7 linked regions of the Homo sapiens genome follow. The protein of the gene in region 1 purifies or fractionates together with the protein of each later gene. This does not show direct contact. Each region holds a gene or a part of one and is shown in the gene's direction. Other genes may lie near its edges.

Region 1 (3,500 bases):
TACTCAACCATCTTAGGGCATCAGATTGGACTTTCAGGTATGCAGTAGCCACTCTCCACTCAGGCTCCTTAGGCAACCACTGTTACAAAAAGAGGATGCACCGTGTATGTTTTTACTGACTATATTGTACTAGATTGTAGTCTTGCGCGTGTCTTTTTTTTGTTGAGTTTGAACTACATGAACCATTTCTGTTCCATCGTTACATGGTAAAGTACCTGGCTAGAAGTAGTTTCTCAAAAGCCTGTAGGAATGAGAAACTGTGAGAAAACTGTTAAGGCCTGTCTAATATTTACAAACATGTAATTTTAATTCAGGCTTGTCCTGTTGGAGTTTTCATTACTTACTACACATCTTCTATTGCTATTAGTTTACATATTTTTTAATGGCCATTGTTAGTCTGGCACTGTGCTAAGCTGCTGGGAAGAACTAGAAAATGACTAAGATGGCTGGGTGCAGTAGCTCATGCATGTAATCCCAGCACTTTGGGAGGCCGAGGTGGGTGGATTGCCTGAGCTCGGGAGTTTGAGACCAGCGTGGGCAACATGGTGAAACCCCATCACTACTAAAATACAAAAAATTGGCCGGGCGCGGTGGCTCACGCCTGTAATCCGAGCACTTTGGGAGGCCAAGGTGGGCAGATCACAAGGTCAAGAGTTTGAGACCAGCCTGGCCAATATGGCAAAACCCCGTCTCTACTAAAAATACAAAAATTAGCCGGGCGTGGTGGCAGGCACCTGTAGTCCCAGCTACTCGGGTGGCTGAGGCAGGAGAATAGCTTGAACCCAGGAGGCAGAGGTTGCAGTGAGCTGAGATTCATGCCACTGTGCTCCAGCCTGGGCGACAGAGGGAGACTCTCTCTCCAAAAAAAAAAAAAAAGAAGTCAGCTGGGCATGCAGGCATGGTGGTGCGCACTTGTAGTCCCAGCTACTCAGGAGGCTGAGGCAGGAGAATTGTTTGAACCCAAGACGTGGAGGTTGCGGTGAGCCGAGATTGCACCACTGCACTCCAGCCTGGGCGACAGAGCGAGACTCCATCTCAAAAAAAGAAAAGAAAAGACAATGCCTAAGATGGGCCCGTGCGCAGTGGCTCACGCCTGTAATCCCAGCACTTTGGGAGGCCGAGGTGGGTGGATCACTTGAGGTCAGGAGTTCAAGACCAGTCTGGCCAACATGGTGAAACCCCATCTCTACTAAAAATGCAAAAAAATTAGCCAGGCGTGGTGGCAGGCGCCCGTGATCCCAGCCACTCTGGAGGCTGAGGTGGGAGAATCACTTGAACCCTGGAGGCGGAGGCTGCAGTGAGCCAAGATCATGCCACTGCACTCCAGTCTAGGCAACAGAGTGAGACTTCACCTCAAAAAAAAAAAAGGCCTAACATTTGGTCTCTTCCTTTTGGAATTTTGGGGTTATGGAAGAGACAAAGATAAACGTGAGTTAATGTTTATCAAGCACTTACAATAGTTCCTGCCACAAAGGAAATGCTACGTAAGTGCTTGATAAGGGATATGAAAAAATACATACTTATAAAATGTGGAGCACTGCCCTTTGACCAGTACTAAACCCATGACAGACTGTAAGTGTTGCAGGAGAAGGGCTAGAAGGCAGTGGAAGCTGGAATAATCAGGAAAGGCTTCATATGGGACACCTGGGCCTTGGAAGAATAACCTTTTGTTCTTTGGTTACCAAAAGGCTTTTTAAAAATTGCTTAGGCTAGATGCAGTGGCTCATGCCTGTAATCCCAGCACATTGAGAGGCTGAGGCAGGAAGATTGCTTGAGCTCAGGTGTTGAAGCCCAGCCTGGGCACATAGCAAACACCTGTCTTTATGAAAAAATTAAAAAAATTAACCAGGTGTTGTGGCGTGCACCTGTAGTCCCAGCTACTTGTGAGGCTGAGGTGGGAGGATTGCTTGAACCTGGGAGGTCGAGGCTACAGTGAGCTAAGATTGTACCACTGTACTCCAGCCTGGGCAATAGAGTGAGACCCTGTCTCAAAAAAAAAAAAAAAAAAAAACAAGAAACAAATAAAAAGTCCTTCAAGGAATTTAAGTGCCCACCAGCCTCCTATTGGCTGTTAGAGGTGAGAATATTCCCATAATAATCAAGGTATGGGTGACTTCTGGGTTTTCCATGTAGCAAGTGGACCTGTTGCTTATGGCATGGCATAAGGACACCTTCGGGATTTTTTGTTGTTATTTTGAGATGGAGTCTCACTCTGTCGCCCAGGTTGGAGTGCAGTGGCACAATCTTGGCTCACTGCAACCTCTGTCTCCCGGGTTCAAGCGACTGTTCTGCCTCAGACTCCCGCGTAGCTGGGATTATAGGTTCGTGACACCATGCCCAGCTAATTTTGTATTTTTAGTGGAGACAGGATTTTACCATGTTGGCCAGGCTGGTCTTGAACTTCTGACTTCAAATGATCCGCCCGCCTCAGCCTCCCAAAGTGCTGGGATTACAGGCATGAGCCACCACGCTTGGCTATTTTTTAATTTTAATTTTATTTTAATATTTTAATTTTTTATTTTAATTTAATTTTTATTTAAAATTTTATTTTAATTTTGAGACTGGGTCTTGATCTGTCGCCAGGCTAGAGTGCAGTGGTGTGATCATAGCTCACTGCAGCCTCAAACTCCTGGGCTCAAGTGATCCTCCCTAGTACCTGGGACCACAGGTGTGCACCAGTACACCTGGCTGATTTTTAAAACTTTTTTGTAGAGACAGAATCTTGCTGTCATGTTCAGGCTGGTCGTGAATTCCCGGCCTCAAGCAATCCTCCTGCCTCAGCCTTCTAAAGTCAAAGTGCTGGGACTACAGATGTGAACCACTGTGCCTGGCAATACGTTGGTTTTAGTTTAAGCTTCATCACTTGCCTTTCTTAACTCTGAAACCCTCTGACCTCTGTTTGTTCATATGTAAAAGGGGAACAGCTGCACTTCTTCAGTCATGTTCATGGGAGAGTAGTAAATTTTAAGTGAAATAATACATATAAAAGATGTTTGAAAATGGCTAGACAGCTGTGCAGAAATGCTGGGGATAATTCACCCAGCCCGAGCTTTTCATCTCTGATCTGCCCGAGGTCTGGTTTGGCATCTCCAGGCCATGTACTGGAAAGTGGCCACTTCCTTCGCTGCTTCGTGGCTCTGAGTTGAGTAGGACTCATGGTCAGGGTCAGGACTGCTCTTCTTCCTCAGATCCCACAAAGGCAGGTGCCTGGGCTGATAGATGATTCCTGTGTGGGTTTGATTTCAGGATTTATTTGTATCCCAGAGAATGACAAGTACGTGGTTCTTGACTTTATAAAAAAATGATTTCTCTTTCATAGGCAGGGAAGCCCACGAGGAGATAAACATCACCTTCACCCTGCCTACAGCGTGGAGCTCAGATGACTGCGCCCTCCACGGTCACTGTGAGCAGGTGGTATTCACAGCCTGCATGACCCTCACGGCCAGCCCTGGGGTGTTCCCCGTCACTGTGTAAGTGTACCCGGCACCTGATGAACGTGC
Region 2 (3,500 bases), on another chromosome or scaffold:
GCTGACGCCAGAGAATTCAGAGAATTACTTGAACCCGGGAGGCGGAGATTGCAGTGAGCTGAGATGGAGATTGTGCCATCGCACTCCAACCTGGGCACCATCTCAAAAAAAAAAAAAAAAAAAAAAGAAGCTTCTGGCAGCTGCATTGTTTGACTGGCTTTTTTTTTTTTTTTTCCCCCAGACAGGGCTTCACTGTCTCCCAGGCTGGAGTGCAGTGGTGCGATCTTGGTTAACTGCAACCTCTGCCTCCCAAGTAGCTGGCACCATAGGTGCGTGCCACCATGCTTGGCTAATTTTGTGTTTTTTGTAGAGACAAGATCTCGCTGTTTCCCAGGCTGGTCTCAAACTCCTGGGCTCAAGCGATCCTCCCGCCTCAGCCTCCCAGAGTGCTGGGATTACAGGGGTGAGCCACCGCACCCAGCCTGGGCTGTGAGAGCCACTGCAGGTGGCCTCCCAGAGTATGAGGTGTGAGTCACCGCACCTGGCCTGGGCTGCTCTTTAAGTCCAGCTGAAGCACATTTCCCTTACGGCCTTCAGGAGAGGGCCGACCCGGATTCCCATCTGCTCCGCGAAGAAACAGGGCGGGTTATAGGAGTGTTTGCTGGGGGGGTCCTGAAGTGAGCTGCTGAGAGCATTGGCCCAAATGTCCCTGAAGTACTTGCTTGAGTCACACGGCACTGTTAAGCCAGGAAGGCTTCGTTCCTTAACCAGTGTGCAGGCAGCGGAGCCTGGACTTGCTGGGAGCACCTCTGTGCTCCAGGCTGAAGGGCCAGCTTGTGACTTTCCGTCTCCCTTCCCAGCAGTGACAGTGACAGTGAAGGGGATAATCCGGAGAAAAAGAAACTGCAAGAACAGCTGATGGGTAAGTGGCTCGCGGCCCTGTGGCAGCGGCAGGGGATGAGAGTGGGTCCGCTGCTGGGTTGGCTCATGCCCCTTGGCCGGGCCCGGGCCCGGGCCGGCCTCCCTCTCGCAGGTGCCGTCGTGATGGAGAAGCCCAACATACGGTGGAACGACGTGGCCGGGCTGGAGGGGGCCAAGGAGGCCCTCAAAGAAGCTGTCATTTTGCCAATCAAATTCCCACACTTGTTCACAGGTGAGAGTTGAGCCATTTCAAACCCCAATGTAAAAATTCCAGGCTTCCGCAGGGCTGGCACTCCGAGGCACCCGGGAGTCAGTGGCGACTCAGCCCCCGGGGCCTGCAGAGGGCCAGGCCTGGCTGCTCGCTGGTGTCCACAACACTGCTGTGGCTGGAGCTATGAGATGACGATCACGTCACAGGGTGGGGGCAGGATCAGGAAGCAGTGCCAGCCGGTGTCACTGTGCAAGGTCATGGGGTCATAGCAGGGGCACTGTGCAAGGTCATGGGGTCATAGCACAGGGCACAGCAGGGAATGTAGCTCCCATCACTTGTTTGCCAGTAGAGTCCGTTGTTTCACAGAATGCCCTGTTTTACTGTATGTATGGGACTCGAGACCCTCTGCTTTTCCTATTCCTTTCCCCAGTCAGGAGGCCTAACTTCTGTGGTTCTCTGTTGCAGGCAAGCGCACCCCCTGGCGGGGGATTCTGCTGTTCGGACCCCCTGGCACAGGGAAATCCTACCTGGCCAAAGCCGTGGCAACAGAGGCCAACAACTCCACCTTCTTCTCTGTGTCCTCCTCAGATCTGATGTCCAAGTGGCTGGGGGAGAGTGAAAAGTAAGTCGGCCACCAGGCCATGCTCTGCCAGCAGCCCCGGCACTGCTAGTGACCCAGCGGCCCACCCTGTGGAGTCACCTCTCAGAGGAGTGGTTTGGTTTTCAGGGAGGGTACCCAAGAGCAGTGTGTCGCTAGCTTATCGGCTGGGACACAGTCCCAACAAAGACAAGTGAAGGTGGAAGGGACCTGGGAGAGGTGAAGTGCTCCACAAGAGAAGGGAAAGGAAGTGAGGATATTTTTGGGGTCTGGGTTGCGGTCCCTGTTGGGGCAGTGTGTGGGGGACATGGTTCCCCACACTGACTCCTGTTTTGCGTGTGATGAGACGGGCTCGGAAGAAGGGGACTGACGTGTTGTAAGTGCAGAGCTAGCGCATGGGGCTCCTGGGATTGAGGCTCTGCGTTTGGGGCTGACACCAAGGTGTGCTCCTCCTCTTGGTGCAGTGTGGCCCGAGGGCTCCTCACCACCACGTTTTCCGCAATTCCGGCATGACCGTGGCCTGCGCCTCCCTGTGGGAAGGGTGAGAAGAGGGAAGTGCCGGGAGCCCAGGCGGGCACGGACGTGAACGTCTTGTCCTCACCCCCTTTCTCACCTTCACAGGCTGGTCAAGAACCTGTTTGAGCTGGCCAGGCAGCACAAGCCCTCCATCATCTTCATCGATGAGGTGGATTCCCTCTGCGGGTCCCGAAATGAAAATGAGAGTGAGGCCGCCCGGAGGATCAAAACGGAGTTCTTGGTCCAGATGCAGGGTGTGTGCCGGGCCCAGGGCCCCCTTGGTTCTTGTTGCACCTGAAGCCAACCCTGGGCTTTATTCTGAGCTGCGGCTGGATTTGGTTGTTCTCAGCCTCGGAGAGGCACTCCCCAGCTCCAGCCCCTCAGGGCACGGGTGGACTTCAATTCCCAAGAGGTGCCTGAGGCCTCTGCCTCACGGGCCACTCCACCCCTCCCATGGCAGGCAGTGCCATAGGTCTCACCTGGCACAGCCAGACCAAGATGTGGTTTAATCTCACTTGGGACCCTGCCAGTGGTGGGTGGCACAGGGATGGCTTCAATTGCTGACACACAAAGCCCCCGGGGTCTGTCCCCAGGTTTCAACTGACCCGTGCAGGTGTCCAGAGTCTGAGTCTTTGTCTCCCTTTCTCCACAGGGGTGGGGAATAACAATGATGGGACTCTGGTTCTTGGAGCCACAAACATCCCATGGGTGTTGGATTCGGCCATCAGGAGGAGGTGAGTCTTCCCCAGGAGAAGCCAGGGCTGGAGGCTTCCTCCCACCATGGTCACGGTCCGCCTGCTGCTGGCAGCCCGGGTGCAGCCTGGCCCCTTTTCCCTGGAGTCTTCCCGTCTGCCTGCCAAGCAGAGCCCTTTGTGAGGCTGGCTTGTTGAGGATGTGCCGCCAGCATCACTGGCCCATGAAATGCGTCCGTTTCACTCAAATCTTCGTGCCTCCCCTTCCGTGAATACCATTCCATCATCCGCTGTCAACTCCTGCCGTGTGCTGGGCTCTCTAGGTTTGAAAAACGAATTTATATCCCCTTGCCGGAGGAAGCTGCCCGCGCCCAGATGTTCCGGTTGCATCTCGGGAGCACTCCCCACAACCTCACGGATGCAAACATCCACGAGCTGGCCCGGAAGACGGAAGGCTACTCGGGCGCGGACATCAGCATCATCGTGCGGGACTCTCTCATGCAGCCCGTGAGGAAGGTGCAGTCGGCCACACACTTCAAAAAGGTGAGTGCCCGCGGCCACTGCTGAGAAAAATCTCATAGTAAGAGCGGGATGTTCGGTTTTTTTTTTCCCAGCTCCTGGT
Region 3 (3,281 bases), on another chromosome or scaffold:
GTTCGGGGCTACAGTGAGCTGTGATGGTGCCACTGTACTCCAGCCTGGGCGACAGAGTGAGACCCTATCTCAAAACAAAAACAAAAACAACCTCCTTCCTCAGCAGAAACAAAAAATGTGCAACCTATGTCAGTCCCATTCCCCGCTTTTTTCCACACAGTCCCTCTTTACCCACTGATTTTACATCTGGGAAGAGGGGGGATGGGAGAGGAAGGAGCAGGGTCAGCACTGTTCTGGGCCTGGGGTGTCTAGGTGGGGAGCAGGGTCCTTGGGGCCACTGTGACCCTGGGTTCCTCATCTCCCCCCAGGCAGCCCAGCTGGAGGCACCCCGGCCTCCCCGGCTCCGCTACCTGCTGGTAGTTTCTACACGAGAAGGAGAAGGTCTGAGCCAGGATGAGACGGTCCTCCTGGGCGTGGATTTCCCTGACAGCAGGTTCGAGCAGGGAGAGGAAAGGAGGGGCAAAGAGGTGAGGGACAGGGGGGACAATGGCTTTCCCTCTGTCCCCTGCCAGCTCCCCCAGCTGCACCCTGGGCCTGGTCTTGCCCCTCTGGAGTGACACCCAGGTGTACTTAGATGGAGACGGGTAAGCAATGGCAACTGGAGGTGGGGGCTGGAGGGTGGAATAACTGAGTGTGACGGATGTGACGGGGCCTGGGCACCAGGGTACAGTAGAACTTTAGGCTGGGACTCTGGGGCCTGCTCCCAGCTCCACGTCAGATTCACCGTGATCCTGAGCAAGGCACCTGACTCCTGGGTCTCGGCTTCCCGTATCCAGCAAAAGGATGGGTTCTCTGTCGCAGAGCCTGGAGTCTGGCCTCACCTGTGCCTGGTCTCCTGCAGGGGCTTCAGCGTGACGTCTGGTGGGCAAAGCCGGATCTTCAAGCCCATCTCCATCCAGACCATGTGGTAAGGACAGAGACTGCCTGGACTCAGGCCAGCCTCTCCTTCGAAGGAGGCTGCAGGGCCTGGGGAAGGGCAGCAAGGGAACAGTGTGACCCAGCCTCTCCTCCTGTCTCAGGGCCACACTCCAGGTATTGCACCAAGCATGTGAGGCAGCTCTAGGCAGCGGCCTTGTACCGGGTGGCAGTGCCCTCACCTGGGCCAGCCACTACCAGGAGAGACTGAACTCCGAACAGAGCTGCCTCAATGAGTGGACGGCTATGGCCGACCTGGAGTCTCTGCGGCCTCCCAGCGCCGAGCCTGGCGGGTCAGTGTGTGGAGGGGAGGGACTGGGTGGAGGGGAAGGCAGGATAATGCAGTGGGGGGCATGGTGGAGAGGGGAAAGGGCCCCTTGACTGAGGGGCTCTGCTCCCAGGTCCTCAGAACAGGAGCAGATGGAGCAGGCGATCCGTGCTGAGCTGTGGAAAGTGTTGGATGTCAGTGACCTGGAGAGTGTCACTTCCAAAGAGGTGGGCAGGGGGCCCGGGGACTGAGTCCCCTCTAGCAGGGGCTGCAAGCTTGCCTTTCCTGGGAGCCCTCCCCACCTTGCCTGTCTCCAGTCCTGAGCCATTCCTGGATGCCTTGGCCTTGGCCCTAATCCATCTAGATGGGATAGGGTGCTGTCCTCAGAGGTCCCAGAGGGAAGGTGGCAGGTTGGGCACTAGGAGAGCCCCAGCCTCTCTTGCCCTGGGCTCTGCCTGCAGATCCGCCAGGCTCTGGAGCTGCGCCTGGGGCTCCCCCTCCAGCAGTACCGTGACTTCATCGACAACCAGATGCTGCTGCTGGTGGCACAGCGGGACCGAGCCTCCCGCATCTTCCCCCACCTCTACCTGGTGAGCTTCAGCCAGGCCTGGGCCATGGGGACCGCTGGCAGCTGTGAGGGCGGCAGGCCAGGAGCAGAGGCTGGAGGAGAGGAGAAATGTGCTGTTCCCTCTCTCCCAGGGCTCAGAGTGGAACGCAGCAAACCTGGAGGAGCTGCAGAGGAACAGGTAGGGCTATGAGCCCCTCGGGCCACCCACCCCATCTTCCCTTCTCCTGGCCTCCCCGCATTGGGTGGTAGCCAGCTTCAAAAACCCCTGGACCACCCTCAGCAGCTGCTAGCTCTGCTTCTAACTCTGTCCTGGGGCTGTTGCCCTGGTGTGGGCTCCCAGGTGGGGACAGGAGACCTGCTGGCCAGCCCCCGCCCACTCTCCTCCCCCATCCACACTGTGAAACAAGGACAGAAACAAAGGGCCTCAGCCACGCCAAGACGAGAAGCAGCAGCGCATACTGCTGTAACTGCCTTGGACAAGCAGAAAAAGGCTCCTCTTGAATGCGCCTGTGGGCCCAGCTACTTGGGAGGCTGAGGCAGGAGGATCGCTTGAGCCCTGGAGATTGAGGCCGCAGTGAGCCGTGATCACGCCACTGCACTCCAGCCTGGGCAACAGAGAGAGACCCTGTCTCTAAAAAATAAGAAAAAAGAAAGAGAGAAAAAGCCTTTTCTCCACCTTGCCCTGTCTCAGGGAAGAAGGAACTGCCCTTCTCCCCGTGGGGACCTGGCTGCCTGCTCTGACAGGTACCTGTCATCTGCCCACCATGGGCTTCTGGGACCTGCTGTAGCCCCTGCCACCCACTGCTGCAGACCCACCCACTCTCAGCTTAGCTCAAAAGCTGTTCTCTAACTCATTTCTGAGAATAACTGAAGGGCTGGAGTTGCAGTTGGCCCAGCTGTCTGGACCAGATGGGGAAACAAGCCCAGCAGGGCAAGATGATTGGTCTAAGGTCGCAGCCAGGTGACAGCTGGGTCACTTCTCCTCCCACTGTCACTGCTGCCTCCATCTGACTTGAAACTCAGAGCTAAAGCGAGGCCCAGGGGCTGCCAGGTCCGATTGCCAGTGGGCCTGGTACCTCTGCCCACATCAGCCTGGCCTTGGGCCCTCTGGGACAGGGTCACCCACATCTTGAACATGGCCCGGGAGATTGACAACTTCTACCCTGAGCGCTTCACCTACCACAATGTGCGCCTCTGGGATGAGGAGTCGGCCCAGCTGCTGCCGCACTGGAAGGAGACGCACCGCTTCATTGAGGCTGCAAGGTCGGTCTCCTGGCTTTGCTGCCTGCCCCACTGTGGCTTCAAGCGGCCTCCGGTGCCCTCCTCCTGCCCACTCTGCCATCAGCTGTGCCATTCCTTCCAGCCCTCAGTGTCCTTCCCTCCTTCTCTACTCTCAGTTGGTTGTGAGCCCTTCACCTGCCCTCCCCTGCAGGAGGCGGGATCCTTCATGGTGAGGGGAGGGTGCTGAACCTGGCCTGCTTCCACAGAGCACAGGGCACCCACGTGCTGGTCCACTGCAAGATGGGCGTC
Region 4 (3,500 bases), on another chromosome or scaffold:
TGGCAGATGCTCAAAAACAGCAACAACAAAAACACATTCTCTTTCAGCCCATGGGATTTCAGAGTGTGGAGAGATTATATTGAATTGGAGGCTTCTGGAAAGTGACAGGAAAATATGGAGTGGGGGGCATTAGAGACAAAGGACACTCATCAATAAAGCTAAGGCCAGAATGTGAGGCTTACACAAAAAATTGCCTGTGCCTCTGAAAAACTGAAAACTTTCAACAATTTAAATAAAAAAGAAAAGACTTTTCAAAATAATATGACTTTTAGTACTCATATAAACTTTGTTTTGTTTTTTTTTGAAACAGGGTCTCACTCTGTCACTCTGAAAGCACTGGTGCAATCATAGCTCACTGTAGCCTCAACCTCGTGGGCTTAAGTGATCCTTCTTGCCTCAGCCTCCTGAGTAACTGCTACTACAGCCATGTGCCACCTGGCTAAATTTTTTATTTTAATTTTTGTAGAGATGGGGGACCTCACAATGTTGTGCAGGCTGTTCTCAAACTCCTGGCCTCAAGTGACTCTCCTGCCTCAGCCTCCCAAAGTGCCGGGAACTAGGTATAAGCCACTTCTCCCAGCCTGAACCTGTTTGTTTTTTTTTATTGAAAAGATAACCTATCCACCCATGTGATTCGAAACAAACATGTTTATAAACATGGACATACTAATATTAAATTATTAATGTTAATTGCCTCAAGAAATTGAGCATAAAGGGAAATGATAATAAAATACAGTGTGTGTTTGTGTAGTGTGTGTGTAGCAGGGAGTTGTGCATGTAAATAATTGACAAAATTTTCAAACTCGTTGATAAAATATTGACTTTGACTGAGCTGTATCTGAGGAGCCTAAGAGAAACAGCAAATACTTTTTTTCAGTGTTGCTGATATTAAGAAAATGATTTTGCAATATAGACATGTGTTATTTTGTGTAATGATATATGCTTACTGAAGTTCTTTCAGTTGAATTTCTGTAAATCTAGTCACGGTGTTCATTCCAAAGTGATGTTTATCTAGACAGATTTTAATGTAAGTCCTTTTTACAATGAATAATCACTCCCAATTTTTTATATATGTGTGTGTGTTTGTGTGCGTGCACTTTTATGGATATATATTCAAGAATTCAGATTCTTTTTAAAGGTCAAAGTTAAAGTTTAAAGAGCTCAGACTGCTCTTTACAGCAAGGAATGCCTGTGAAATTGTAACATCTTGGAAAGCAATCTCCAGTGTTGTATGGCTCCAGATTGTGTGGCTGAGGCATGGCTGATGAGTAAAAGATAAAATTTTTGTGCTGATCTGTGACAGAACCTCCATTGACTTAGTCCATTGACTTTTAGAATAAAACTGATTGCACCAATTAATACATATTGTTATGAAAACACATTTATGGATGAAAACGCTTACTATCATCAGTTTTTCTCTAATTTAGACTTCTTCCTTTCCCAGGCAGTATATGGTGCTGGTCCCCTCCCTGCTCCACACTGAGGCCCCTAAGAAGGGCTGTGTCCTTCTGAGCCACCTGAATGAGACAGTGACTGTAAGTGCTTCCTTGGAGTCTGGCAGGGAAAACAGGAGCCTCTTCACTGACCTGGTGGCGGAGAAGGACTTATTCCACTGTGTCTCCTTCACTGTGAGTGCTACGGTGCCAGCTGGCTATCCCTGCTTGATACATTTTATTGAGCTCTATAGGTCATGGTGATGGAGCTCTGGTGTGCGATCCCAAGGTATGACTTTAAGAATGTAGTTAGGACTTCAGGGGCCAGGTGCGGTGGCTCACGCCTGTAATCCCAGCACTTTGGGAAGCCAAGGCGGGCAGATCACGAGGTCAGGAGATCGAGACCATCCTGGCTAACAAGATGAAACCCCGTCTCTACCAAAAATACAAAAAATTAGCCGGGCGTAGTGGCAGGCGCCCGTAGTCCCAGCTACCTGGGAGGCTGAGGCAGGAGAATGGCGTGAACCCGGGAGGCGAAGTTTGCAGTGAGCCGAGATCGCCCCACTGCACTCCAGCCTGGGCGACAGAGCGAGACTCCGTCTCAAAAAAAAAAAAAAAAAAAAAAGGAATGTAGTTAGGACTTCAGAAAGGACTAAAAATAGTGAGTTTTCAACTATTAAGGAACAAAGCATTTTTTACCAGAGTAAGGAAGAAATACTCTTCTAAATTTCATTCCTAAATAATAATCCTATTGCCCACAAAAATTTCATGACTTAGAGGAGTTTTCTAGTTTTGATTGTAACTGTCTCTTTAAGGATCGGGCTGGACATTTCCTAGAAATAGATCATATGAAAATTTCATGATAAAAACTTTGCATGCAACATAATTTTTTGCACATGCAGGATACCCTAAGCAAACACCTAGTACCTCTTTAAAGTTGCCTAACTTGGGAAACTCAGCTCCTATGCTCTCCCATATTTTTTCAGAGATGTTTCTCTCCATTGCTTCAGAATATACATACTCAGTTAAAAGGCATCTAATTTAATAACTAGAGCTCTAGGTGAACTCCATGGAGATCTGGGTTCTATTGATGGCCACTCTTACTGATACCATTCCTCCATCTCACATTAATATCGTCACTCTTATGTCTGAAGAAATAGTCACACCTTCCTTCTCCTTGGTGAAGCTGAAGGAGAGATAGGAAATAGCAATGACTGAAGAATGCAGAGGGAGAAGACTGCACAGTTCCTCAGTAGTAAAAAATCCTTTGCTTTTTAGCTCCCAAGGATCTCAGCCTCTTCAGAGGTGGCATTCCTTAGCATCCAGATAAAGGGGCCTACGCAAGATTTCAGGAAGAGGAACACAGTTCTGGTACTGAACACCCAAAGTCTGGTCTTTGTCCAGACAGACAAACCCATGTATAAACCAGGACAGACAGGTAAGTAGGGAAATTCCACTGTTTGGGGCAACACTGAGAAGGGCCACCTGAACAGCCAAAGTCTCCATTATCCTAGCCCCGTAGCCTCCTGTCTTATTACCCAAATTACCTGCTTTATCATGTCTGAATCTTATCGGAGAACTACTTTTCCAGTAAGATTCCGTGTTGTCTCCGTGGATGAAAATTTTCGCCCTCGAAATGAACTGGTAAGCATCCACTATCTGTGGTTTGGGTTGTGGGTAGAGTGGGAATACTCACCCAGAGTGAGGTAGAAAGGTACAAGAAAAGCGAGAGGATGAAAGACACTTGTTTTTGAACTTGGCTCCAGCCTCAGCACAGATTTGCAGTCTTATACAAAACAAAAATTGAGGGACAAGAGATGAGGAAGTTCTTTCTCTTATAACAGTATTTAATCAGTCTGGCAATAGCTGCATTTGTTACTCTGAACACACTGCATTAAGAATATTAAAGAAGCATAGAAAAAAGGCACTATTCCTATTCATACTTTCAAGGAATTTATGATTAAAAAAGCAACACAGAATTATGCTTTTATGAATATATAGGTATATACAATAGACCATATTATAATTTTATTATATATTCGATACATATAGTATAGAAATATATTA
Region 5 (3,500 bases), on another chromosome or scaffold:
AATCTTCCTCCAGCAGTGATTTTTTTTTTCCCCTCTCTTGAGCCAGAAACAGAAAAGAATGTAAAGGGTCTCACTGGGTCTTTCCACCCGGGTCCACACAGTCAGGATGTGGTGATTCCTTCAGCCACTCTCCCACTTACCTCCTGTGAAATGCAGTGCATTAAACTGACCTTAGGCCCTTTGGCTTTGGGAATTTTGCAAATTATTTTTTCAATTAGCCATTTTAAATGTTATGGAAAGAACTGTTTTTAGACACCAAATTTTCTTCAGATATAATATAAAAAGTTTAAAAAAGACTTTACATACGCAAAAGCTAAAGAAACTTAAAAGGCCGTTTAAAGGATTAATCTATTATGAGCACATATATTATGTTATATAAGTACTAATGACTTTTAACTAAAATGCAGTTTTCTGTTTTTAAAAAGGAAAATGAACGATTATATAATCAAGTAAAAGATCTCCAAGAACAAAACAAGAAAAATGAGGAGCGAATGTTTAAGGAAAACCAAAGTTTATTCAGTGAGGTAGCTTCCTTAAAGTAAGTCCTTTTGAACTTCTTAAAATCAAATATACTTAGACTATTTCAAGCATTTTCTTATTATGTTAATAATACATTTATTTTTACTTAGACATAGTAAAATTTTATTTTTATTTGTACACATTTCCAATTTTATGTTTAATACTCAGTGGATTTTTCTTTTGGTGTTAGATGGCCAGCACATACTTGATAGTATTTTCAGCATATTCATATTTGAATTCATATGAATTTATGTTCATAACTGATTCAAACATCAGTTTCAGGAAATTGAATATATAGTATTCCTCTTGATCAGTCATTAAGAATGAGATAATTAACCATTTCCCAAGGAACCATTTGATTAATAATACTAAAAAAGAATGGTCATACAGTATCACTTATGATCTTCTTGGGTCAGGTTCCATAGAAGCAGAGCCTGAGATGGTGGAGGTCCTTGTGGAGATGATATACTGAAGGATAACTCCCAGGAGAAGGGAGCAAGGGAAGCAGGAACGGTGAGGTAGGGGGAGGGCAAATAGTGGTCTCAGCTGGAGACTGGCTTCATTCTCCTCCCAAGAAGCTCTGGAGAATAAATTGTACCAGAGTTGGTCCCTGCTTGAGGCAAGGGGGCAGCCTTAGTCACTGGCCGGAGTGTACTGTGGAAAGGAGTAGGGGCTGCCCTTTATGCCGGGTCAGGGGCTGCGGTTTAAAGGAGCACCTGTAAGTTGTTTTCAGCCAGCATTTATCATGGCAGGGTTATGGAGCACCAGCACCTACTTAGGAATCATATTTCAGACTATAAGGTCTTTTGGACGTTACTGCTTCCAACTTTAACATATTAAGTGAAAAAGCTGGGCCCGTGAACATGGACAAGCTAGCATACTATCTTCTTTTAGAAAATGACCACTATTTGTGTATCTTTTTATGTAAACACCTAATCACTCAGAAAGGACTGTTCTCAGAAGTTTCTGACCCATGAGTATCATGAATGTTTACTGAATTTATTTATATACTTCTCCCCCTTTTTGGTTATATAACCTAGGGCCTAAGAGGCAGGGCTGCTAATAATAGCTCATACTGATCTGTCAGGCAAAATAGAAAAAGACACACTTGGTAGCAGACTATATATATATATCCTCTTTCTCCTTGTAAGTTGGTAAGTGTAACCCCAGGCCATGTGTGATAATCTGCACAGTGGTAATGCATGAATGCATTTACTTACGCTTTTTTTTTTTTTTTTTTTTTTTTTTTTTGAGACGGAGTCTCGCTCTGTCACCCAGGCTGGAGTGCAATGGCGTAATCTCGGCTCACTGCAAGCTCTGCCTCCCAGGTTCATGCCATTCTCCTGCCTCAGCCTCCCGAGTATCTGGGACTACAGGCACCCGCCACCATGCCCGGCTAATTTTTTGTATTTTTTAGTAGAGACAGAGTTTCACCATGTTAGCCAGGATGGTCTCTATCTCCTGACCTCGTGATCCACCTGCCTCGGCCTCCCAACGTGCTGGGATTACAGGCGTGAGCCACCGTGCCTGGCCTACTTATGCTTTTTTTCCCAGATGTTTCAGTAAAGTTATTTTAAAATATCTTATCTTGTACTACTTGGCTTCTAAAAGAAGATCTATCCCAGGATCCAAAATTGAAGCTGTAAATTAACTTTCAGAATGAAATAAATGGTTTCTTTAGTACATTAGGGTTAGATGATCTTATGTGGAATCCAAAACTCCTTCTATAATATCTCTGGAATAACAGGAAAATTGAATCTAAAGTCCAGATATTAGGCTGTGTTTGGTTTTGTTTGTTAGTTTCCATGTATGAGACTGGCGACTCTCAGAAAAGATTCTAGAACAATATGACAAGGACTGCATTAACAACCCCACAGAAAAATGCAGCGCATCTTTGTAGACGATTAATTTTTTTCCTCTGAGAATTGGGAATTAATATTTTTATATTATAAATAAACCAATAATCTTAGGTTTCAGTTCTTTTAGAATAGATATAAGCATTTCCCTTAAAGTATATTTCTCTTTTAGTATGGTAGTATTTTAATCTTTAGATTAAATGAAAATTTTACCTTCATTTATGCATACAGTTTCAATGTATGTTAGTTTTTAATTTTTAAGAATTGAATATTTTCTACTGAAAGGAGCACCTGGTAAGAAAGAAAAACAACTTTTTATTTTCAAAATAAATTAGAGAACAGATGCACAAAAGTCGTTTTCTGTCTCAAGTAGTTGAAGATTCAGAGCCCACAAGAAATCAGAATTTTACAGATCTGTTAGCAGAACTACGGATGGCACAGGTAAGTTGCATAACGATTTTGACTATTAGGGATAATAAAGGTTTTATAAAAATCCCCATTTTTATACAAATTTTTATTAAAAAATTACATAGAAATGTATTAAAAAATCTATAAATTTCATACCATTTAAAACTTAGGGAGAAATATCTTAAATTAGCATATAGTATGCACATGACCTTAGTATAGAGGAAACATTATATTACTGTTTTTAGATGTCATTGTCTTTATGATTCAGCCTCTCATCAGGCATTTGTCACATCTCATCAGGTGCATTTATCATAGAGCCATATCAGAGGCATGATTTTATTTAGGACATGTATACCTTATTTCAAACAAATTCCTTATTTGAAAGCGTGCAGCCTAAATAGTGTAATTTGGAGATAATTATTTACCTTTAAAAGTTAGTAGCTTTCTACCTGTCTTCCGAAGTAGACTGCACTTCTAGAGAGCAGAGACTGTATCTTACAAGTATTTATATTCCACATACCTAACATAAAGTTGAAATGCAATGCTGTTCCATAACTTTTTTATGTTTATTAAATTGTATTATAAAGAATATGGCCTAGAGTTTTCTAAAGCAGTATTTATCAATAGAAGGAGTTTGGGAATTTAAGGCAGGGTAGTTCTATTTTAAGCAGAAGTAATTCATGCACTGCATGATTTTTATCATCCCTGTCCCTAAGA
Region 6 (3,099 bases), on another chromosome or scaffold:
GGGTCAGAAGATTCTCCTGGCCACCAAGTGCCAGCATTGCCCACAAATCCTTTTAGGAATGGGACAGGTACCTTCCACTTGTTGTATTTATTAGTGTAGCTTCTCCTTTGTCTCCCATCCACTCTGACACCTAAGCCCCACTCTTTTCCCATTAGATATATGTAAGTAGTTGTAGTAGAGATAATAATTGACATTTCTCGTAGACTACCCAGAAACTTTTTTAATACCTGTGCCATTCTCAATAAGAATTTATGAGATGCCAGCGGCATAGCCCTTCACACTCTCTGTCTCATCTCTCCTCCTTTCTCATTAGCCCCTTTTAATTTGTTTTTCCTTTTGACTCCTGCTCCCATTAGGAGCAGGAATGGCAGTAATAAAAGTCTGCACTTTGGTCATTTCTTTTCCTCAGAGGAAGCCTGAGTGCTCACTTAAACACTATCCCCTCAGACTCCCTGTGTGAGGCCTGCAGAGGCCCTGAATGCACAAATGGGAAACCAAGGCACAGAGAGGCTCTCCTCTCCTCTCCTCTCCCCCGATGTACCCTCAAAAAAAAAAAAATGCTAACCAGTTCTTCCATTAAGCCTCGGCTGAGTGAGGGAAAGCCCAGCACTGCTGCCCTCTCGGGTAACTCACCCTAAGGCCTCGGCCCACCTCTGGCTATGGTAACCACACTGGGGGCTTCCTCCAAGCCCCGCTCTTCCAGCACTTCCACCGGCAGAGTCCCAGAGCCACTTCACCCTGGGGGTGGGCTGTGGCCCCCAGTCAGCTCTGCTCAGGACCTGCTCTATTTCAGGGAAGAAGATTTATGTATTATATGTGGCTATATTTCCTAGAGCACCTGTGTTTTCCTCTTTCTAAGCCAGGGTCCTGTCTGGATGACTTATGCGGTGGGGGAGTGTAAACCAGAACTTTTCATCTATTTGAAGGCGATTAAACTGTGTCTAATGCAAACTTCCTGCCTCCTCCTTCCCCCTTCCATTTCAAGAATATGTTTGTGTGTAGGGTGGGGGTGGGGGTTGGAAGGGGTTGCTTGTTACTCCCCAAACTTCCATTAACCAGGGCACCCTTGGGTTGGAGAGGTAGTTCCAAACTCTCCATTGATCTATACTACATTCTGGGCTGAAGGTTTTCTTATTCTGGACTATGAAGAAAGGACTTTCAAGGAGATATAGTGTGAACAGGATCAGGAAGGTAGAGGGATTATATTTACTTAAGAGAACAAGCTCTATATTAGGATATTGTTTTGAAGCAGATGGATGCCGTTAATTGCTAATAAGTCTTAGTTATTAACGCAGGCTCATCAGGGCCCCCCCTTGGAAATATTTGATCAGTGGTCTTTTACAAGTGATGGTATATATTTCTTTCTAGGTGGTGTATAATCAAGACTCCCTATCAATTCCCATCTCATACTTCCCAGTTAATTGGAATTAATGAAATTTGGCTGCTCCCAGACCTTTTTCCATGTCTTCCTTTTTCCTTTTAACAGGATTTAAGTTGAGCATTCTTGAGAGAGAGAGAGAGAGAGAGATTGGAAGAGAGATGGGGAGAGACTGACTCAGATCCCTCTCCTGTCTGCTTCTTTTTCTGGTTCTCTCAGTTTTTTTTCTTGAAGTTATAAAGCCAAACCTGGAGAATTTGTAAGTTGTTAGGTTTCCCCAGGTAACTTGGCACTCATATGAACCCCATTTTAATAAGTACTCAGCCCATCTCCTCTCCTGGGCTCAGATGGCTCTCTCTCCTCCCTCACCTTACCTCAAGTGTTCTCCTGAGGACCCTTAGGTCAGACAGAGAAGCTTTCTCTTTCTGATGGGAAGGGTCAAAGTGGAAATCTCTTATCTCTAGTGTGAAATGATTTTCTGCTTTTTCATACTCCCTGCCCTCTTTCTTTTCCTTAATAAATCTTCCATGTTTAAGATGTTGGCCTGAAGATCTGTCCCATTCATACCATGCACCAGCTGGGACTGTCCCTATCTGATCAGAGGGGAGATTAAAGAATCAATGTTCCCAGGGGAAAAGGGCCTTAAATTGTTTGGTCTTTTCAATGGCTGACACTGTCTCCAACTCTCCCCTTCCTCCTTCTTCCTCAAGCTTCCTATGCACCCTACTTTCCCAGGCCAGGATGGTTGGCACTGATCCCAAACCTCTGGGGGCAGGTGGAAATTGGCTGTGGTGAGCCATTTCTTCATGTCCATTCAGCTCTGAGGCCTTCCTGGCCCTAGCTGAGATCATCATCTCCTCCTTTGCTTTTACCCCAGGAGTGAGGTTGGGTTAGAGGTGGATTCTGATTCCGTAGCAGCTAAATTCCATTCTCCCTGTCCTGACCATCCTGCCTTTACCCATAAAGCACCCGTTCCTACTGACCAAATCTCTTTACTTTGTTGGAGAAAAAAAGTATTTTGTTTTTAAATCTATTTTCTAATTTAAATGCAATTTAATATGTAAATCTCTGCACTTTTGTGTGAGCCTACAAATGTGTATGTGTTGGGGGTTTTTCACTCTCTGGTATTTCTTAATAAAGAAATCTTTCTTTTGGGGGGAAGCCAATTAATGAAGGAGCCTTGAATGGTTTTAGAAATACAGGGCTGTCTGTTTCTTTGTGCTTCTGCCTCATTTCTTTACTTGTGCCTAGTGTGAGTGATTGGACTCCCTCCCCCACCTTTTGACCCCCTTCCTCTGAGAGGGCCCTCAACTTAGTGGGGGCAGAGAGAAGGACCTGTCCTGTATCTGGTACCCCTCTGGGACCACTTGGATTGGCTCTAGTAGTAACCTAGCAACCCAGCCCCCTCCCCTCTCCCCATGGCCTGGCCCTGTTAGTCCTTTTCTTCCAGCTCAGTTCATTTTATACTCCTGAGTTGGGGCCAGGCCAGGGGAAATCACCAAGGGAGCACAGTAAATGGTTTTAAAAAAATGATAATTCGTTCTCATGCCTTGGTGCTACTAAAGAAGAGTCATGTTCCCAGTAATTCAAAAAGCATTTGTGTCAGTTTGGAGAATACATTCTAGGAATCTCTTGCTGTTCTTGGTGATAGGCTTTAGAAACAGTGTCAAAGGCTACAACTCTGAATATCATTTGTTTTAAAGGATGCAAGCCCAGCTCAC
Region 7 (3,500 bases), on another chromosome or scaffold:
TATCTTTATAAAAATTCCAAAACCCTGAAAGTTCAAAACTCTAGGGTTTCAGATAAGGGGTTATAAACCTATATTAATTATCTAAAAGGTGTTGATTTGGAGACTTCACCCCCACATATGGGGTCTCAGTGTCTTGAAACCGATTGAGTTTCTTCTCATATTCCTGTTTTTCTTTGCCACATGTATGAAATAGTGAAATGTGAGCACGTCAGATAGGAGTGGTCGCAATGGTCACACCCTTGGAGCATAACATGCCTCCTAAATACAGGTTTTTAGTTACTAATGGTAGCTTAACAGGCTTAGAACTGTTCTCCACAGTACAGGAAATCTTGTTCAAAAGGTACTTGAAAGGTGTGACTCGAATTGTACTTCCAGCCCATGCTGCTGTGTTTCATTGAGGCCAATTATGATGCATCACATGACCTAATGAGAGGGATATAGTCCCTTGCCTTTTTACCAGCTTATTAAGGGGTCTGGGGGTGATGTCTGGAGTGACTTTTTGCTAGCAGTCTGGCAGTGCTGAGTTTATTCCTCCCAGAGGGATTCCACCATGCCAGTGAGGATTTGGGCTGGCTTGTGGCTGCCTAGTGCTTACATTTGATTAAATTGTTACCTTCTATCCATTCATTGTCCCCTAGTTCCAGCCTTCCAAGCAGTGGCTATGCCTATAAGGCCACAGATGGAGAAGAAAGAAGACTCAGGCATTTGGGCCAGGCAGGAGAACTGTTTAAGGGGCCCTGAACTTAGAATCCTTGAAGAGCTGCCTCAGAGTTCTTGGGGCAGGTGGTAGGGGTGGAGTTTAGAGGCTTCTTAATGTCAGGTTATAGAGTAATAAGCATTTCTTTCTGAAAGGTGGCTCTTCCAGGTTCCTGTTTAGCTGGAGTTAAGGGTAGGGCAGTGGGGAAAACTTCGGCGATGGGCTGGGTCTCCATTTGTTGAAGAACTGCTCCTCCTAGGCAGTTAGACGGATTACCAGCATCTTATAGTGTTCTCTGGAAGTTTAAGTTGAAAAAGGTGGGTGCCATTTTTTGTCTGCTAGGAGAGCAACACCCTTTGTCGCCCTCTTTAGTTTGATGGTTTAATCATTTCAGTGGTGATTTTTTTTTTTTTTTTTGAGGGGAGGAGGGCAATCTGGAAATCCCGTTTGCTGTAGAACTTTGATATCTAATATGGTAGCTATCCACATGTGGCTGGTTAAAATGAAATTAAGAATTCAGTTCCTCAGTCATAGTAGCTGCATTTCAAGTGTGTAATAGTCACAGCAGTAGGTAGTGGCTAGCACAGGTACGAACATATTCGCCCTCCCAGAAAGTTCTGCTGGACAGCACTGTGCTATAGTTTCAAAGGATCCATAGTCTGTCGTCATTAAAAGCTTTTGAGCCAAAACACTAAGGCTTTCTTCATCCTCTCTTTCAAGGGAATAGTAACACGACGAAATGTAGTCAGCTGTTTCATTTCATTCTCTCTTCTGACTTATAGCAACACAGGAAAGTGTTGGATAAAGGAAAACCTGAAGATGTGATGCCATCTGTTAAGGGGGCCCAGGTAAGGCGGATTTCTTTGTGAGCATTCTGAAAATGAGGCAGCCCCACCGTCTGACTTGAGGTTCCTCCAATCCTGTCCCTTCTCTTTTTTCCCTGTTTTTTTTTTTTTGAGACAGAGTCTTGCTCTGTCACCCAGGCTGGGGTGTGCCACCACACCTGGCTAATTTTTGTATTTTTAGTAGAGACGGGGTTTTACCATGTTGCCCAGGCTAGTCTCCAACTCCTGACCTCAGGTGATCTGACCGCTTTGGCCTCCCAGTGTGCTGGGATTACAGGCGTGAGCCACCGCGCTTGGCCCCCTTCTCTTTTTTTCTGACTGTCCCTCCATCTCTTACCATTCTCTCGTGCCTTCAGGAGCGCCTGCCAACGGTACCGCTGTCCGGCATGTACAATAAATCTGGAGGAAAAGTGAGACTCACCTTTAAACTAGAACAAGACCAGCTGTGGATTGGCACTAAAGGTATGTTCTTCCTCGCCTCCTTGCTGGCCCACTGCCTGCCTCTGGCACCCAGCAGCACTCACATTTTAGAGTGCGATTTCACCCCTCCTTCTGAAACCTCTCTCTCCACTGTGCTTTGCTTGCTTCTGGCTTTTAAATTTGCTTTTAGATGCTCGCCTTTTGTTTGGACCGTTTTCCCTCATTGTTTTCAGTCTGATCTTAGGGCTGATCCACCAAACAGTGGCTCTTCAGTTGCACACAGATTTGGGGGTCCCAAACACGTGGCCCAAGGGCCAAATCTGGTCCACAGAAAAATGTTTTGTGGGATGACACACAATCTGTAAAAATTGGGAGATTTCACTAATCTGATTTTTTTTTTTTTTTTGGCTTCTCTTGAAAACTCAAATGATCTGGCCCTTTGGGGCCTGCATTCTCACATGGCATCGATCCACTAGAGCCGAGTGGTGGTTTCCAGTGGGCCATACTACAGTCTTCATGGTCCCATTTATCTTAGAAGTAGCCAGCTTTGTTCATTTGTCACCTGCCTGGCCCCTGTAGGTCAGAGTTTGACCCTATAGTAGGTGAAGTTTTCCTAACCGCTGCCGAGGAATCTGCCTCTCCCTCCCCGCCTGGTTGCCCTCTGCCTGCCCCACCCCCGCCTGTGCACGGTGTCTGGATCAGCCTTGCTGTTTGCTGGGAAGTGTCTCTGACTGTCCTCCCTCTCCCTTCCCCCAGATGGTTACAAAGTCTTGTTAGTTACACTGCAGAACTGTCTGTCCCTTTCTTTGCCACACTGTTGTGCCAGTTAAAGTTCCCAAGCATCTTTAAACTTGGTCTGTTCAAAGCGAGTTACCCTGTTTCACTGCCCCATCTGTGTTTTCTTCTGTCCTGTCCATCTTACCTACTGCTTTTTATCCTGGGTACCCGTGCTCAAGGACCTTTGGCTGTTTAAGGACACATTCAAATGCCTAACCATAGCGTTCAGTGTTCTCAACACTGGGCCTTAGTTTAAATTTTGGTTCCAGCTTCTGGCCCGTTTGCCCTGTGGTCCCCTGTGTATTTTAGCCGCATCTCTCTGTGAAGCTCCCAGTGTGCTTTGCACAGCTCCTTGTCTTTGCTCATGCTGTGCCCTTACCTGGAATGCCTTTTTCCCATTCCTTGTTATTAATAAAATCTTCCAAGGCCCTACTTAAATGTCCTCTCTGAATGAAGCCTTCCTTGATTCTCCCCCCACCCTCCAAATGACTTGCTGCCGCTTCTGTTCATAGAGCGCTTCGTTTATATCCCCAGAGCACTCATTACTCTCTGACTTGTCTGTCCCCCTGTTAGATTCCTGGAGGGAACCGAACATGCCTAAATCACCTGTTTCTGACCAGCACTGTAGGTATTCAGTGTTCGAGGTAAATGCTAAAGAGAAGTATAGGGGGTCCCATCATCTGACGTTCACTGGTTTCAGGGACAGACCATTTAGTGAGACTCCACTTAAAATGGGACCAAGTTTTATGGAGAATAATTGG

What was found.
Region 2: the proteins of TMEM248 (region 1) and VPS4A purify together in Homo sapiens (affinity purification with mass spectrometry; one large-scale study listed by BioGRID and IntAct). This does not show direct contact.
Region 3: the proteins of TMEM248 (region 1) and SSH3 purify together in Homo sapiens (affinity purification with mass spectrometry; one large-scale study listed by BioGRID and IntAct). This does not show direct contact.
Region 4: the proteins of TMEM248 (region 1) and PZP purify together in Homo sapiens (affinity purification with mass spectrometry; one large-scale study listed by BioGRID and IntAct). This does not show direct contact.
Region 5: the proteins of TMEM248 (region 1) and CEP162 purify together in Homo sapiens (affinity purification with mass spectrometry; one large-scale study listed by BioGRID and IntAct). This does not show direct contact.
Region 6: the proteins of TMEM248 (region 1) and ZDHHC9 fractionate together in Homo sapiens (co-fractionation; one large-scale study listed by BioGRID). This does not show direct contact.
Region 7: the proteins of TMEM248 (region 1) and UBFD1 purify together in Homo sapiens (affinity purification with mass spectrometry, with the first as the bait; one large-scale study listed by BioGRID). This does not show direct contact.

Annotation. Positions count from the first base shown.
Region 1 is NC_000007.14:66,945,225-66,948,724, forward strand, and holds part of TMEM248 (transmembrane protein 248), read left to right. Parts: coding exon 1-37; intron 38-3,319; coding exon 3,320-3,470; intron 3,471-3,500.
Region 2 is NC_000016.10:69,317,850-69,321,349, forward strand, and holds part of VPS4A (vacuolar protein sorting-associated protein 4A), read left to right. Parts: intron 1-800; coding exon 801-862; intron 863-973; coding exon 974-1,093; intron 1,094-1,537; coding exon 1,538-1,694; intron 1,695-2,291; coding exon 2,292-2,440; intron 2,441-2,838; coding exon 2,839-2,920; intron 2,921-3,201; coding exon 3,202-3,421; intron 3,422-3,500. UniProt on the Homo sapiens protein: Involved in late steps of the endosomal multivesicular bodies (MVB) pathway. Recognizes membrane-associated ESCRT-III assemblies and catalyzes their disassembly, possibly in combination with membrane fission.
Region 3 is NC_000011.10:67,306,530-67,309,810, forward strand, and holds part of SSH3 (protein phosphatase Slingshot homolog 3), read left to right. Parts: intron 1-308; coding exon 309-433; intron 434-512; coding exon 513-584; intron 585-841; coding exon 842-907; intron 908-1,019; coding exon 1,020-1,208; intron 1,209-1,316; coding exon 1,317-1,410; intron 1,411-1,644; coding exon 1,645-1,773; intron 1,774-1,882; coding exon 1,883-1,929; intron 1,930-2,867; coding exon 2,868-3,014; intron 3,015-3,238; coding exon 3,239-3,281. UniProt on the Homo sapiens protein: Protein phosphatase which may play a role in the regulation of actin filament dynamics. Can dephosphorylate and activate the actin binding/depolymerizing factor cofilin, which subsequently binds to actin filaments and stimulates their disassembly.
Region 4 is NC_000012.12:9,201,896-9,205,395, reverse strand, and holds part of PZP (pregnancy zone protein precursor), read left to right. Parts: intron 1-1,444; coding exon 1,445-1,628; intron 1,629-2,711; coding exon 2,712-2,871; exon of another isoform or gene 2,872-2,990; coding exon of another isoform or gene 2,991-3,024; coding exon 3,025-3,077; intron 3,078-3,500. UniProt on the Homo sapiens protein: Is able to inhibit all four classes of proteinases by a unique 'trapping' mechanism. This protein has a peptide stretch, called the 'bait region' which contains specific cleavage sites for different proteinases.
Region 5 is NC_000006.12:84,168,644-84,172,143, reverse strand, and holds part of CEP162 (centrosomal protein of 162 kDa), read left to right. Parts: intron 1-425; coding exon 426-538; intron 539-2,710; coding exon 2,711-2,816; intron 2,817-3,500. UniProt on the Homo sapiens protein: Required to promote assembly of the transition zone in primary cilia. Acts by specifically recognizing and binding the axonemal microtubule.
Region 6 is NC_000023.11:129,802,788-129,805,886, reverse strand, and holds the end of ZDHHC9 (palmitoyltransferase ZDHHC9), read left to right. Parts: 3' UTR 1-2,599; downstream 2,600-3,099. UniProt on the Homo sapiens protein: Palmitoyltransferase that catalyzes the addition of palmitate onto various protein substrates, such as ADRB2, GSDMD, HRAS, NRAS and CGAS. The ZDHHC9-GOLGA7 complex is a palmitoyltransferase specific for HRAS and NRAS.
Region 7 is NC_000016.10:23,560,727-23,564,226, forward strand, and holds part of UBFD1 (ubiquitin domain-containing protein UBFD1), read left to right. Parts: intron 1-1,479; coding exon 1,480-1,545; intron 1,546-1,898; coding exon 1,899-2,004; intron 2,005-3,312; coding exon of another isoform or gene 3,313-3,383; intron 3,384-3,500. UniProt on the Homo sapiens protein: May play a role as NF-kappa-B regulator.